2 separate regions of the Homo sapiens genome follow, and region 2 is linked to region 1. The links come from fine-mapping of genetic effects on gene expression. Tissue or cell type: fibroblasts. Region 1 holds a variant in brackets; the other region holds the start of a gene. All regions are shown on one strand. Distances are from middle to middle.

What was found. PIP is the estimated chance that this variant, and not a neighbour inherited with it, causes the effect.
Region 2: FBLN1 starts here. The variant in region 1 is fine-mapped to the expression of FBLN1 in fibroblasts (GTEx, PIP 0.94).

The regions. Positions count from the first base shown.
Region 1 is chr22:45,436,782-45,444,958 of GRCh38, forward strand. No RefSeq gene overlaps it. Among named protein-coding and RNA genes, the nearest start is that of RIBC2, 27 kb to the left of the region's middle. RefSeq lists an enhancer at 5,570-6,132. The variant CA/C (reference allele first, on the strand shown) is at 4,300.
Region 2 is chr22:45,497,872-45,506,048 of GRCh38, forward strand. FBLN1 (fibulin 1) reads left to right here and starts at 5,012. Exons shown (of 17, transcript NM_006486.3): 1 at 5,012-5,193. The coding sequence starts at 5,115. It overlaps LOC105373066 (a long non-coding RNA gene), which reads right to left and starts at 3,116. Exons shown (of 3, transcript XR_938305.2): 1 at 2,925-3,116; 2 at 893-958; 3 at 399-649. RefSeq lists enhancers at 1,387-2,023, 5,626-6,239, 6,240-6,853, 6,854-7,467, 7,468-8,081 and 1 more.

The DNA of each region.
Region 1 (8,177 bases):
GTTCCGGGTGGGCGTGGGCTTGGCGGGCCGCGCACTCGGAGCAGCCGGCCAGCCCTGCCGGCCCCGCGCAGTGAGGAGCTTAGCACCCGGGCCAGTGGCTGCGGAGGGTGTACTGGGTCCCCCAGCAGTGCCGGCCCACTGGCGCTGCGCTCCATTTCTCAGCGGGCCTTAGCTGCCTTCCCGCGGGGCAGGGCTCGGGACCTGCAGCCCGCCATGCCTGAGCCTCCCACCCCCTCCATGAGCTCCTGTGCGGCCCAAGCCTCCCCGACGAGCGCCGCCCCGTGCTCCACGGCGCCCAGTCCCATCGACCGCCCAAGGGCTGAGGAGTGCGAGCGCACGGCGCGGGACTAGCAGGCAGCTCCACCTGCAGCCCCGGTGCGGAATCCACTGGATGAAGCCAGCTGGGCTCCTGAGTCTGATGGGGACGTGGAGAACCTTTGTATCTAGCTCAGGGATTGTAAACGCACCAATCAGCGCCCTGTCAAAACAGGCCACTGGGCTCTACCAATCAGCAGGATGTGGGTGGGGCCAGATAAGAGAATAAAAGCAGGCTGCCCAAGCCAGCAGTGGTAACCCGCTCGGGTTCCCTTCCACTCTGTGGGAGCTTTGTTCTTTTGCTCTTTGCAATAAATCTTGCTACTGCTCACTCTCTGGGTCCACACTGCTTCACCGCGAAGATCTGCAGCTTCACTCCTGAGCAAGCGAGACCACAAACCCACCAGAAGGAAGAAACTCCGAACACATCCGAACATCAGAAGGAACAAACTCCAGACGCGCCACCTTAAGAGCTGTAACACTCACCGCGAGGGTTCCCGGCTTCATTCTTGAAGTCCAAGAACCCACCAGTTCTGGACACACTAGCTCTCCACAGACTGGCTTTTAAAAATTCTAGTTATATATACGCCACTTACAAAAGGCACATCTAAAACAAAACAGCACAGAAAAATTATAATAATAGCGTTCAAAAGCCATTTGTATTTGCCCAAATGACGTATGTCCACACTTGTGTCTGGCACATGGGTGTCTACAGGAGCTGTATTCATAATTGCCAAAACCGGGAAGCAAGCAACGTGTTCTTCAATAAGTTAATGGATAAAAACACTGTGGTACCTCCAGACAATGGAGTCTTATTAATATAAGATATAATAATAAGAAAAGAGCTATCAAGCCACAAGAAAATGTGGAAGAAGCTTAAATGCATATTGCTTGGTGAAAGAAGTCAATCTGCAAAGGTTATCTACTGTATGAGTCCAATCATATGACTTTTTTTTTTTTTTGAGGAGTCTCCCTCTGTTGCCTAGCCTGGAGCGCAGTGGCACCGTCTTGGCTCACTGAAACCTCCGCCTCCCAGGTTCAAGCGATTCTCCTGCCTCAGCCTCCCAAGTAGCTGGGACTACAGGCGTGCACCACCACGCCCGTCTAATTTTTGTATTTTTAGTAGAGTTGGGTTTCACTGTGTTGGCCAGGCTGGTATTGAACTCCTGACCTCAGATGATCCACCCACCTTGGCCTCCCAAAGTGTTGGGATTACGGCATGAGCCACTGCACCCAGCCTGACTTTTCAAAAAAGGCAAAGCTATAGAAACAGTAAAAACATCAGTGGTTGCCAGGGACTGAGGGGAGGGAGGGATGAATAGGCAGAGAGAGCACAAGGATTTTTAGGGCAGTGAAACTTTGCTGTGTGATGCTGTAACCTTGGGTATATGTCATTATACATTTGTCAAAATCCACAGAATGTACACAGGGTGACCCCTAATGTAAATTATAAACTCTGGGTGATGATGATGTGTCAATGTTGGCTAGTCAATTGTAACAAATGTACCACACTAACATGAGACATTAATAATAGGGGAACTAGGGGCCTATGGGAAGGGAGCATATGGGAACCCTCTATACTTGTTACTCAATTTTCTTGTAAACCTAACACTGTTCTAAAAGATAGCCTATTCATTTTAAAATGAAGCCATAAGATAAACAGGAAGAAAAATAGAGTCATTTGCACATGGTTCTTTATTCTGTGTTCAAGTTCTTATGTTTAGAATAATGGGAAGGGGGCCAGGCACGGTGGCTCATGCCTGTAATCCCAGCACTTTGGGAGGTCGAAGTGGGAAGATGACCTGAGGTCAGGAGTTTGAGACCAGCCTGGCCAACATGGTGAAACCCTGTCTCTACTAAAAATACAAACTAGCCAGGCATGATGGTGCGCACCTGTAATCCCAGCTACTCAGGAGGCTGAGGCAGGAGAATCTCTTGAGCCCGGGAAGCGGAGGTTGCAGTGAGCTGAGGTCACACCACTGTACTCCAACCTGGGCAACACAGCAAGACTCTGTCTACAAAAATAAAAATAAGGCCAGGTGCTGTGGCTCGCGCCTGTAATCCCAGCACTTTGGGAGGCCAAGGTGGGCAGATCACGAGGTCAGGAGATTGAGACCATCCTGGCTAACACGGTGAAACCCCATCTCTACTACAAATACAAAAAAATTAGCCGGGCATGGTGTCGGGTGCCTATTGTCCCAGCTACTCAGGGGGCTAAGGCAGGAGAATGGCATGAACCTGGGAGGTGGAGATTGCAGTGAGCCGAAATCATGCCACTGCACTCCAGCCTGGGCAACAGAGTGAGACTCCATCTCAAAAAATAAAAAATAAAAATAAATAAATAACATAAAAATAAGGCCAGGTGCGGTAGCTCACGCCTGTAATCCCAGCACTTTGGGACACCGAAGCAGGTGGATCACGAGGTCAGGAGTTCAGGACCAGCCTGGTCAACATAGCGAGACCTCGTCTCTACAAAAAATTTAAAAAATTTTAGGCCGGGTACAGTGGCTCATGCCTGTAATCTCAGAACTTTGGGAGGCTGAGGCAGGTGGATTACCTGAGGTCAGGAGTTTGAGACCAGCCTGGCCAACATGGTGAAACCCTGACTCTACTAAAAATACAAAAATTAGCCAGGTGTGGAGGTGCACACCTGTAGTCCTAGCTACTCAGGAGGCAGAGGCATGAGAATCACTTGAACCAGGGAGGTGGATGTTGCAGTGAGCTGAGATCATGCCACTTCATTCCAGCCTCGGGTACAGAGTGAGACTCTGTCTCAAAAAAACAAGCAAAAAATCACAAAAAGACCTTTACAGAAATGTTTATAGCATCTTTATTCATGATAGCACCAAACTTGGATCAACCAAAATATCTATCAACAGGTGATCAGATAAACAAAAGTTATATTCCTATCACTCACAGCTGAAAAGAAACAAACTGCTGATATACCCGTCAAAACGGCAGAATCAGAAATCATAATCAGGGCGGGGCGCAGTGGCTCAGGCCTGTAATCCCAGCACTTTGGGAGGCCAAGGGGGCAGATCACGAGGTCAGGAGATCAAGACCAACCTGGCTAACATGGTGAAACCCCATCGCTACTAAAAACACAAAAAATTAGCCGGGCGTGGTGGCATGTGCCTGTACTCCCAGCTACTCAGGAGGCTGAGGCATGAGAATTGCTTGAACCCGGGAGGTGGACGTTGCAGTGAGCCAAGATTACGCCACTGCGCTACAGCCTGGGCAACAGAGCAAGACTCCATCTCAAAAAAATAAATAAATGAAATAAAAAATAAAAATAAAAAATTAGCTGGGCATGGTGGTGAGGGGTGGGGTGGGGGGTGTTCCTGTAATACCAGCTACTTGGGAGGCTGAGGCAGGAGAATTGCTTGAACCCGGGAGGCAGAGGTTACAGTGAGCCAAGATCGCACCACTGCCCTCCAGCCTGGGTGACAAGAGCGAAATTCTGTCTCAAAAAAAAAAATCATAATCAGAAACATTGTAACAGATACAAAGGAGTTCACAGTTTACAATTCTATCTATGGGGAGTTCCAGAATTGGGATAACTATTCCATCAGTGCTTGCCTGGGACAGGGTGAGGGGGTTTGATGGCAAACAGGCATGAGGCTACTTTTTGGAGTGATGGAAACGGACAGAAAAAGAAAACCCAACCACACTCCTACCCCTGACAGGACTGCAAAGGGAGGACCCCTAAGAAACCGGGTACCATCTGTTATGCATGCAGCAGGACGAGCCGCAGACAAAACTCCTCAGACACTGAGTTAAAGAAGGAAGTGGTTCTTTCGGCCGGGAGCATCAGGTAAGACTCCTGTCTCAAGAGCCGAGCTCCCCCAGTGAGCAATTCCTGTCCCTTTTAAGGGCTCACAACTCTAAGGGGGTCCGCGCGAGAGGGTCGTGATCGATTGAGCAAGCAGGGGGTACATGACTGGGGGCTGCATGCACCGGTAATCAGAAGGAAACAGAACAGGA[CA/C]GGGATTTTTGCAATGCCTTTCCATACAAAGTCTGGAATCTATAGATAACATAACCGGTTAGGTCAGGGTCGATCTTTAACTACCAGGATTAGGTCAGGCAGGCCCAGGCCTGGTTTCGGGTCTGGTTCCTAGGCGCCGGGCTACCTGCATTTCGTTTCGCTTTTCTTTCCTTTTCTGAGTATAAAACAAGATAAAACAATATGAGAGAGTCTGTCTCTCTTCTCTCATGTGCAGTGAGCTGTTGCTGTCTACTGGAGAGCTGTCCACCAGCAGGTGGCACATCTATCTCTCGTGCTCCCAGCATAGCCTCTGGCCATCTGGTTTCCACCTGCACCGGGTCTCCCTCTGCAGAAGCGACAGCCACTTTGGAATGTTGGTGCAATGAGGTGACAGGTCCCCATGCTCCTGGGTGGAGCAGCGTCCTGAGCCTGGTTACAGGAGGGATCATGGGGTGAAGGTTGGGGATGGAGCAGGGGCCTCTAGAGCACCTTTTCCAAAGAGACATGTTTCCTTTTCTTTTCTTTTCTTTTCTTTTTTTTTTTTTTTTTTGGGACAGAGTCTTGCTCTGTCACCACCCAGGCTGGAGTGCAGTGGTGCGATCTCGGCTCACTGCAACCTCCGCCTCCCGGGTTCAAGCGATTCTCCTGCCTCTGCCTCAGCCTCCCAAGTAGCTGGGACTACAGGCGCATACCACCACACCCAGCTAATTTTTTGTATTTTTAGTAGAGACGGGGTTTCACCGCGTTAGCCACAATGGTCTTGATCTCCTGACCTCGTGATCCACCTGACTCGGCCTCCCAAAGTGCTGGGATTACAGGCATGAGCCACCGCGCCCAGCAAGAGGCATCTTTTCAACCATATGGATTGTGCCCACGTGATGTTAAGAGAGTGGTGAAAAGAAGCTGGAGGATGCCGAGTGAGAATGAGGCTGTGAGTGACACAGAGTAGGTAGTTGCCAGGTGGGGCTTCATCTGTGCTTGCCCCGACCAAGTAAAGGCCTTGATCCTCCCCCACCCACCACCTCATCCAGCCCACCCCCAGATTCATGCTCCCCCATCTTCGAACCTCACTTGCTCTCTGCCCAGACCTGGCAAAGTCAGTTTCATCTACTGAGTCTGGAAGGTCTGCCTTCCTTTCTTCTTCCAGCGAATGAAAGATGAATCCAAAGTCCCTGGGGCCAACCCCCAGCATGGCCCCCAGAAGTAAACAGGAATGGGAATGAGGGCAGATGGAATGTCTGCGAGTCAGTGGGTCTTTTCTTTTCACCAGACGTTCCAGAAAGCTCTCCAAACACACTTGTTCTAACAGTGTCAGAAAAGACTCCAGCCTCATTGTCCACAATTGTTGGGGATAGAACATTCCAGAGCCTATTGAAGAAAAAAGTGGGTAGGGCCATCTCCTCCACACCAGGCTGATCTGTGAATTAATCGCCCCTGAAGGTTTTCCCCGGGGCTCTGGAGCTGACAAATGTGACTTTGTTACCTGGATATCCCTTGGAACCTGGCAGAGCCTGAGGACAGGACTCAGCCACAGAGTCTCTCACCCAAAGCCACTCAGTGTCCTCAGCTGCCCATCTGGTAACTGGCCCTAAAACGGCCTTTCAGTTCCAGCACTGCCACCCCTCCCAGCCCCACTGGCCCAGCCTCCTCATTCCCAGCTCAAATTCGTGACCAGGGGGCCTATGGGACCTGGTCGTCTTTTCAGATGGACAGTCCCTAGGTCAAGGCCCACTCCCTGGCCCCATCCTCGCATGGGGAGAGTCGGCTCATAGTATATTCAGAGGCAAAAAGGGCGGTGGGCTTGCAGCACCAATAAACATGTCCAGCAAAATATGCTGATGGTGTACATGGCTGCTGCTTGCTGAGCCCGTGTGTGCTGATGCCACAGAGCTGAGCTTCTTAAAATCTGCAGGAGGCTGCCGGGTGCGATGGCTCACGCCTGTGATCCCAGCACTTTTGGGAGGCCGAGGCGGGTAGATCACCTGAGGTCAGGAGTTCGAGACCAGCCTGACCAACATAGAGAAACCCCATCTCTACTAAAAATACAAAATTAGCCAGGTGTAGTGGAGCATGCCTGTAATTCCAGCTACTCGGGAGGCTGAGGCAGGAGAATTGCTTGAACCCAGGAGGCGGAGGTTGCGGTAAGCTGAGATTGCACCTTTGCACTCCAGCCTGGGCAACAAGAGCAAAACTCCGTCTCAAAAAAAAAAAAAAAAAAAAACCTGCAGGAGGCTACAAGAAGTGTTACCAGTTTCATATCCCCAATGAGGATGAGGAATGTGAACACAAAGTACCTAAGACAAGTCTCAATCCATTTAGAAAGTTTATTTTGTACCTGGGCTTGGTGGCTCGTGCCTGTAATCCCAGCACTTTGGGAGGCTGAGGCAGGCAGATCACCTGAGGTTACGAGTTCAAGACCAGCCTGGCCAACATGGTGAAACCTCGTCTCTACTAAAAAGACAAAATTAGCTGGGCATGGTGGCAGGTGCCTGTAGTCCCAGCTACTTGGGAGGCTGAGGCAGGAGAATCACTTGAACCTGGGAGGCAGAGGTTGCAGTGAGCCAAGATCATGCCACTGCACTCCAGCCTGGGCAACAAGAGCGAAACTCTGTCTCCCAAAAAAAAAAAAAAGGAAAGAAAGTTTATTTTGCCAAGGTTAAGGACGTGTCTGTGACACAGCCTCAGGAGGTCCTGCTGACATGTGCCCAAGGAGGTTGTGGTATAGCTTGCTTTTACACATTTTTGGGAGACATGAGGCATGAATCAATATGTGTAAGATGTACATTGCTTCAGTTTGGAAACGCAGGACAACTGGAAGCAGGGATTTCCAGGTCATAGGCATATAAAAGATAAATGGGTGCATCCTTTTGAGTCTTTGATCAGCCTTTCACTGAATACACAATTTCCATGTGAGCAGAGGGTAGAGGAGTAGTCCTGTGTGCCCTAGTCTGGCTCAGTGAATCTGCATTTTCACATAAACAATAGGGCAGAGGAAGCAATCAAGCAATCATATATGCATTTGTCTCAGGTGGGCAGAGGCCTGATGGTGAGTTCTGTCCTTTGTCCCACATCTGTGAAGATAAGCTATCAATTTACATTGCCAGGGTGAAATTCAACAGAACTGTTTTAGGGTAAAGATCCTGAGGCCCACAAGGAATTTCCTTGTGGGCAAATTGGGAGGGAGGTATGCAGCTTGTTTATCTTTGTAGCTATCTTATCTAGGAAGAAAATGGGAGGCAAGTTTGCGTGATGCAGTTCCCAGCTTGACTTTTCCCCTTGACTTTGCGATTTTGGAGTCCTGCGATTTTCCTTTCACAAGAACTAAGGGCTAGAGAGGGGAACTCACTTTCCCAAGGTCCCAGAGCCAGTTCAAGATGGAGCCAGGAATTGTGCCCAGTTCTAAAGTCCCAGCTACCTCTGACAGAATGCCTGCAAGGAGACAGTCAGCAGAGCTCCAGGAGGGGAAGACAGGTGACAACACTCTAGTGTATTTCTCTAGCTTGACCTCTGCTGTGAGTTCCAGGCTTGGTACCCAAATGTCGACTTGATAGCTTTACTGGGATGTCTAACAAGCAGGCAGTCAACATGAAGGCATCTGAACAGAACTGGTTTCCCTCTACCCACACCTGTCCCTCCAAAGTCTTCCCTGTCTTAGGCTATGGAAACCCCAATGCTTCCAATTGCTCAGGCCAGAGAGTTTGGATCCATCGTTGGGCTCTCTCTCTCTCAATCTATCAGCAAATCCTGTTGGTAAGACTTCAAAATATAAAACAAATCTGGCCAGCCACGGTGGCTCACGCCTGTAATCCCAACACTTTGGGAGGCCGAGGTGGGTGGATCATCTGAGGTCAGGAGTTCGAGACCAGCCTGGCCAACA
Region 2 (8,177 bases), 61 kb after region 1:
AGAAGGGTTCAACCTCTCTGATGATTAAAAACATACTTTGAAAGAAGATAAGAGTTTCTTTTCCCTGTGGAAATAGCTCAGATTAAACAACGAGGTGACACAATGCTGGCTGGAAGTGGAGAGACTCACAGCTGCTGTGTCTCTCTCTGGATTGTGAATTTGTCAGTTTCTTGGTGCAGCACTTACTCTTCTAGGCCATTCCTGCTGGGAGCCGCAGAGGTACAGCTGAACCTGGAGCGCACAGGTTTCACGGCAGCATCATTTCTAACGCTGCAAAGTTTAAATGACGAAAATGTCCCCTAATAAGAGAGTGAGTGGTTAAGTAAATGTGTATGCGACTTCTAAACATATCCACTCACTGGATATGTAATGGAGATTTCTAATAAGACAGGGAAATGTTACAATGCTATAATTTTTATTGAAAAACAGAACCCAAGATACAAAGGGAGTCAGATGACCTCCATTCAAATAGAGGCACTGCCAATCTCCAGTTCTGAGACTCCTGGGTCAGAGACAGGGACTTTATTAGTTGCAGTAAAATAATAGCTGCAGTTTAAGCATGGTGTTCACATGAGTTCCTTGTGTCTTCCAAGTCCTAGGGTCGGTGTGGAGTGGGCGAGGTCAAGGGCCCATCATGGATGGTGGATGCCTGCACACACAATGGGCTGCATTACACAGGAGAACACTGAGTTTGGGGAATTTACCGATTTTCCGGTAAACTTGTCCAGAGGGAGATGGTACCTCCTCCTTTGAGGTTGCTTTTTGCAAACACGACCCTGAGACACGGGTACAGAGTGACCAGGGCTTTGCATTTGTGGCATACTCAGCAAGAATGTGCAGGAATGCCCGTGCCCATGATGGGTTCTTCTCCCAGCACCTGGGTGTGGCTCACCTGGACTGCAAGAATCTCAGGCCTATGATCTTCCAGTGGGCCTCTGGAAGCTGGATGTGCTGAGAACTAGAGAAGGGGGCCGAGAGTCAGCCTGGGTTTTGGGGTCTGAAGCATGCTTAGAAGCATCCTGGTCCATCTCCTGCATTTTGCAGATAGGGAAACTGAGGCCCAGAAAGGGACTTGCCCAGAGCCAGACAGTGAATGAGGAGGGGGTCAGGACTGGTGCTCCCCTGTGTGGTCCTGAAGGCACATCACTGTCACCACCAGCACAGCAGCTGACAGTGATTACATTACAGAGTTTTCTCTGTGGGGCTTATGTGATGAGAGTCAGCATCTCCTTCAATTCTCACGACCGTGCAAAGTGCAAAGTCCTAATCCTTGCCCCACGTGACAGATGAGGAAACAAGGTACCAAGAAGTCAAATGCTCAATGCCACAGAGCCAGAGAGTAGCGAGCTTGGATTGGAACCCAGGTGGTCTGGCCTCAGACCCTGTCCCAGGCTGTCAGGACCTCTAGCTTGTCCTGGGGGATAGGGGTCCATGGTGGTGCCTACTTCCCTGACACCCAGTGCCTGGCTTTCCAAGTCACCAGCCACAGGGACAAGAGGATGTGGAGAGGCCATGGAGGACAGGCCTGGGATGAGGACTAGAGTGAGTGCCTAAAAAGGGGGCGCCTTGGCTGGGCGCCACGGCTCACGCCTGTAATCCTAGCACTTTGGGAGGCTGAGGCAGGCGGATCACAAGGTCAGGAGTTCGAGACCAGTTTGACCAACACAGTGAAACCCCGTCTCTACTAAAAATACAAAAAATTAGCTGGGTTTGATGGTGTGTGCCTGTAATCCCAGCTACCCCCGAGCCTGAGGCAGGACAATTGCGTGAACCCGGCAGACAGAGGTTGCAGTGAGCCAAGATCGTGGCATTGCACTCCAGCCTGGGTGACAGTGTGAGACTTGCCTCAAAAAAAAAAAAAAAAAAAAAAAATGGTGGGGGCTGTGCCTCAGAACAGGAGTAAGCTCTTGAAGCTTCAGGAAAGGCTGGGAGAGGCCAGGTTTCCATGTCCTCTCTCCTGGCTCTGGCCTCCCTCCCCAGCTGTTGCAGGCTTGGCTCAGCCCTCCTCCTCCCAGCAGTCCCTCTGCCTGCCTAGGGCAGTGTCAGTGCCTAGCTGAATGTAGGAGTCACCTCCTCCTACTGTCCCTGTTTCCTCATCCCCACCCCCTTCTCAGCCACCCACAACACAGCCACTCCCTCCCCATCCCCAGAAAGGGCCCCGGTCACATCGCCAGCGGCCACCTGCTCCATCCCCATTGGGACTTCTCAGTCCTGGCTTCACTGAGCACTGGGCCACACTGGGCAGTCCCAGCCAGAATCACTTTTTTTTTGCTATCACCCAGGCTGGAGTGCAGTGGTACAATCTTGGCTCACTGCAACCTCCGCCTTCAGGGTTCAAGCAACTCTCCTGCCTCAGTCTCCCAAGTAGCTGGGACTACAGGCATGCACCACGATGCCCAGCTAATTTTTGTATTTTTAGTGGAGATGGGGTTTCATCATATTGGCCAGGTTGGTCTCGAACCCCTGACCTCAAGTGATCCACCCACCTCGGCCTCCCATAGTGTTGGGATTACAGGCATGAGCCACCACGCCCTGCCCAGAATCACTTTTTGATTCCTTCTTGGATATTGCCTTCTCCTGGTTTCCTTCTACCCCTCTGCCTGTTTCTACGTCTTCTTTCTGAATCCCCCAGGTCCCCTGGTTCCCCCTTCGCCCTCCACCACCTTCCCTTAGTCATCTAGACTCCTTCCAGGGCACCCCATTCTCCGATGGCTTAAACGAATTAAGTTAATACCAAAGTAGTAATGAGTTCCCAACCTGTTCCAACTCAGAAATGCCTCCCTCGGGCCATCTGCTGATGTGCTGTTTCCGCACCCCACCCCATCCAAAGTCAAAACGGACCAGGATCTCTGGTGCCTCCAAACTTTTGCAGAGACATCAGGAAAGCTGGCACCACCAAGGAAACCCTTCCCACCTCTGCTCACCTTTCACTGGCCAGTCGCATGTCACCTCTTCCTGAGGGGCCTCCTTAACCTCAGAGGCGTGAGCATGCTGGTCCCCTTGGTAAGCTTTCCTGGGCTCTCTGCAAACTTCAAACTTATAAGACACCCTGTGGGGAGATGAGTTCTTGTCCTTTTGTTTTTCATTTTAAAATTTAACATGTGACCGGGCACGGTGACTCACGCCTGTAATCTCAGCACTTTGGGAGGACAAGGCGGGTGGATCACCTGATGTCGGGAGTTCAAGACCAGCCTGACCAACACGGAGAAACCCCGTCTCTACTAAAAATACAAAATTTGCCAGGCGTGGTGGTGCATGCCTGTAGTCCCAGCTACTCAGGAGGCTGAGGCAGGAGAATCGCTTGAACCCGGGAGGTGGAGGTTGCAGTGGGCTGAGATTGCGCCACTGCACTCCAGCCTGGGCAACAAAAGCAAAACACCATCTCAAAAAAACAGAAAGAAACAACATGTATTCAGAAAAGGGCACGTACCATAAATGAACAGCTCAATAAATTCTCACAAACTGAGCCCAACCTTGTAACCAATACCCAGAGTAAGAAAGCTGAACCTAACCAGCCCCCGAAAGCCCAGCACGCTCCCACTCCAGGATCACCACTCTCCTGACCTCTGAACTGTTCTTGCCTTTTTTTTTTTTTTTTTTTTTTTTTGAGACGGAGTCTCACTCCGCCGCCCAGGCTGGAGTGCAGTGGTGAGATCTCGGCTCACTGCAACCTCCGTCTCCCGGGTTCAGGCGATTCTCCTGCCTCAGCCTCCCGAGTAGCTGGGACTACAGGTGTGCACCACCATGCCTGGCTAATTTATTTTTATTTTTATTTTTAGTAGAGACAGGGTTTCACCATGTTGGCCAGGCTGGTTTCGAACTCCTGACCTCAGGCAATCCGCCCACTTCATCCTCCCAAAGTGCTGGGATTACAGGTGTGAGCCACCGCCACCGGCCTGTTCTTGCCTTTTATGTAAATGGAATCATGCAGCGAGTGTTCCTTTGTGGCTGACTCTATTACTCTGACTTACGTCTGTGAGATTTACCCGTTATGTGAGTTGCGGATCATTCACTCCTGTTCCGTTTGTCGTGCTCCTAAGCCCGAATACTCCACGATATTCATCTGCCTTGATGACGCTAGGCTTCCCAATTGGAGGAATTATGAATGTGCGGCTACATGTCTTTCTGTCTTTTGGAGCACATGTTGTATGCGTTTCTGCTGAGTGTAAGGCTGGGCGGGGCGTCGGTGGCTCAAGGGGTCCATGGTGAACTCACAGGAACACCGCTTTGAGCTGCCCAGTGGCGTTCCTATGCGTCTCATCCAGTTCCTCCGCATCTTCACCTGCACCATTTTATTCTTCTTCTTTGGAAAATAAATCTACTTGTGGTTCCAAAGCCTAACTCATCCTCAGTAACCCCGGTAGCTATGAATTCCTATACAAGAGGCTCCCGCAGGCCCAGCGCCAAAGCTGCCTCCCCTGCAGCCTCGGTGACTTCCCGGGTCTCTCCCTCCGGCCCTGGTGTCCCGGGTGAGCCCAGCACACGTTGGGATTTTGGTTGTTTGTTGGCCTGGCCCGACTGTCCCTGTCTCTGAGGGCAGAGTCGGGTCCCATCCCGGGACACGCCTGGGGTTAGCCACCGACCTGCAGCCTCCCGGCCGAGGGTGCGGGGTTGGCGGTAAGGCCTGCCCCAGTGCCCCCCAGCAGCCGGGCCTCCGACTGCAGGCCCGGGTCCCCGCTCCTCCGCGCGGAGTCGGGCGGGGATAACCTTTGATCCCGAGCCCTCCCCTCGAGAGGGGGTGGGGGGAGGAGGGGATCGGGTTTCACGGAGTGTTGGGGGATAGGACTGGGGGCATCCGGCCCGAAGGCGCCCCCTCTGTGCCCCCTCCGGGGAAGTCTGGGATCCAGGCCCTCGCCCCCAGCCGTGGGCGCGCGCCCCTCGCAGCCGGGGTCCGGGGAGGGAGGGTCCCGGCAGGGGGCGCCGGGGAGGGAGGACCAGGAGACCCGCGGCCCCGCCTCCGCCGCGCCCTCCTCCCGGGCGGGATAATTGAACGGCGCGGCCCTGGCCCAGCGTTGGCTGCCGAGGCTCGGCCGGAGCGTGGAGCCCGCGCCGCTGCCCCAGGACCGCGCCCGCGCCTTTGTCCGCCGCCGCCCACCGCCCGTCGCCCGCCGCCCATGGAGCGCGCCGCGCCGTCGCGCCGGGTCCCGCTTCCGCTGCTGCTGCTCGGCGGCCTTGCGCTGCTGGCGGCCGGAGGTAGGGGCGTCCCGGGTCCGCCGCCCCAGCTTAGGGTCCCGACCCCCTCGGCCTCGCGCTCCCTGCGAGTTTCGGAACCACGGGGACTCGGAGTCCGTGCGTTGCCCTGCGCGGCGCCCCCGGACTGTCAGCGCCGAGGCCTCGGCGACGCCCCCCTCCCCCACGGCCAGCTCCGGTCCTCATCTCCTCCCCGGCCTGGGGACTTGTTTCAAAACCGGATTCCCCCACCCCTCAAACACACCGTCCTACCCCAGTCCTAGCAAATCCAGCCGGCTCCGGGGGCCGCATCCCGGGCCCTGGGGGTTCAGGGGCGCTAGCTGGGCTGGGGGACGCTGGCTGGGGGTTACCGAGCCCAGGGCGCCTTGCACTTGACGCTGGAAGCGCCCTCGGCTATCTTTCCTCACCGCTTCCCGCCTCCACCCCCAGGTAGGAGCTGTTGTACCCAGCTTGCGGATGTGAAACTTGAGCCTGGAGGGTGGGAAGCAGTCTTTTCCCCAGGAGACACTAGCGGTCCTGGGATAGGGGCTGGAGAGGAAGAAATGAGAAAGCCAGGGAGCAGCCTGGAGGTTTTTGGGGCGTAGCTGGGAGGATGGAGGGGATGCGGACCTGGCCACCTCCTCCCTGCCTCCCTCCCGGGACAGAGGGCCCAAGGCAGTGGTTCTGCCGGGCTCGGTGCTCAGCGGGGACTGGGGACTGGTCACTTCCACCAACGGCAAGGGGGATGGAGTTTTCCAAGAGCAGATCTGATCGATGGCCCAGACCTTAGGCCCCAACTCTGGGACTGACAGCTCCGGGACAGTGCCCACCCAGCCCGCGCTTTTCTCCCCTCTAACCCTCAAGGCCTGGTCCCTGGGGGGACTGCCACGAGGTCCTCTGATCAGAGCAGCTGCTGGGCGGCAGAGCTATGACCTGTGACCTCTCTGCTGACCCGTGGCTTCTCAGAGCCACTAGCCAGGCCCGGCACTCCTGGCGTCTTTGTTTCTCCAGTGGCCCAGGTCCAGGGGAGTGCCCTAGACCACCCTCAGAATCCGAGTCTTAATCCCTGGTTTAGTTGAGTTCCTTTTAACCTCTGGTGACCGCCTTTGTTAGTCAAAAGGTCGCTTGTCCCAACTAATGCTCACTGGGGGATTCCAGGAAGGGGGCTGAAGGGGGCTGGAGGGGGAGGGGAGGCTGGGAGCTGAGCTCTACAGAGCTTTCTTGACTGGCTGGCTGCAGCAGAGCCCTGTGGAGCTCTGATTGTTCAGGCGGTGCTGGGCACGGCCTGGGCACCTCGTGGGGTTGGAGATGGTGTGGGGAGGCGCAGAGCTCAGTGTTGGCACCAGGAGCCTTCGCAGCCCCTGGGGGCTCCCTGGAGGCTCTTTAGAAGAGATGGAGCTTGATGTAAGGGGAGCGCGGGAAGAGGGCATTCCAGCAAGCAGCAGGCCGGGTGGCTGCCAGCTGGAGGGAAAACCCCGAGGGGCCCTGGGTGATGGGTGGGTGGGACATCCGAGACTCCTGTTAGAAAAGGAAGGAGCCTCAGAGGCCCCGATTGTGTCGATGAGGAAGCTGAGGGCCTGAGAGAAGGCGTGGTAAAACTCTCCCTGGCCCCGGAGTCTCTGCGTTCCCTCTCACTGTTCTTTTCTGTCTGCGGTTTGCGAACAATTTCTCCCTATGTGTGTGTGACTGAATGAACACCCCAGGACTTGCGGGCCCAGTGTGGCTCACTGCTGAGCCACAGAGAAGTTTGTAATTGGAAGGGTTTAAAAAAGCCTCCTAATTGCACACTTCGATAAAAGCAGCTGGATGTCCTGTGGGCCTTTTGTTTCTTTTGGGGAGAAGTCTCTTTGAGTTTCAACAGGTTTAATTTGGTACAGTTTGGGAAGGGGCTTTTGAAGACTGCCTGGCCCCTATCTGCAGCTGTGAGGCCCCCGAAGCCCTGTATGTAAGGCCACAAGTGGCACCGCCCCTGCTCTCAGAGAGCTGTGGGGCCGCAGATGGTGAGCCTGTTAGCTGATCTGCAGAAACTCCTTTGGCGACGGCCGCTTAAATGGAGAAGGGCGCTGATCTTTCTTGCCAAACGGCCGAGAGGAGCCGCCTGTCTGTCCTGTGTCTGTCCGTCCCGTTGGGCTTTACTGAGAGCTGGGTGGGAGGGAGTGGAGAGGAGGAGGTGTTAGGAAAAGACGATTGTGTTTTCTCCAAGGCTTTCTTGGCCTCTGGCTGCAGCCGGGCAGCGTTTCCGACTGATTAAAAGAAAGTTGGGAGGGAGAACAAAGGCCAGGGAGGACTTGGCTTGAAAACGTGTGGTCTGTGCCGCCACTCCTGGAAGTTTCCCAGTCAGGAGGTGGGGGCCAGGGCACTGAATGCATGAAGATGAGACTCTGTGCCATGGGGGTCAGGGCTGGGGCCTCTCCTGCAGCACCCACAGCTCTGGCTCACGCCCCGCTCCTGGCCCTGCTGAGTGCCCCCCAACTCAGGGCTGCATTTGCCACCCCTGTTAGGTGTGTAGGGCAGGAGTAGGGGCACGCGGCTGACTCATCTTCAGGTCCTGGAGGGCTCCACGGGCCTTGTGAGACTAGAAATCAGTTTGCATCAGAAAAAGCCATGAGATGGTTTGGTGGTTTTCTCATTTATAAAATGAAGGGAACAAAAACCTACTTAGGTTGTCTTGAGGATTAAGAGAGAGAACATAGGATAGTGTCTACCATGGCAGCTATATTATTATTATTATTATTTTATTTTATTTTTGAGACGGAGTTTCGCTCTTGTCGCCCAGGCTGGAGTGCAATGGCATGATCTCGACTCACTGCAACCTCCGCCTCCCGAGTTGAAGCGATTCTCCTGCTTCAGCCTCCCCAGCAGCTGGGATTGCAGGCGCCCATCACGCCCAGCTAATTTTTGTACTTTTAGTAGAGATGGGGTTTCACCATCTTGGCCAGGCTAGTCTCGAACTCCTGACCTCAGGTGATCCACCTACCTCGGCCTCCCAAAGTGCTGGAATTACAGGT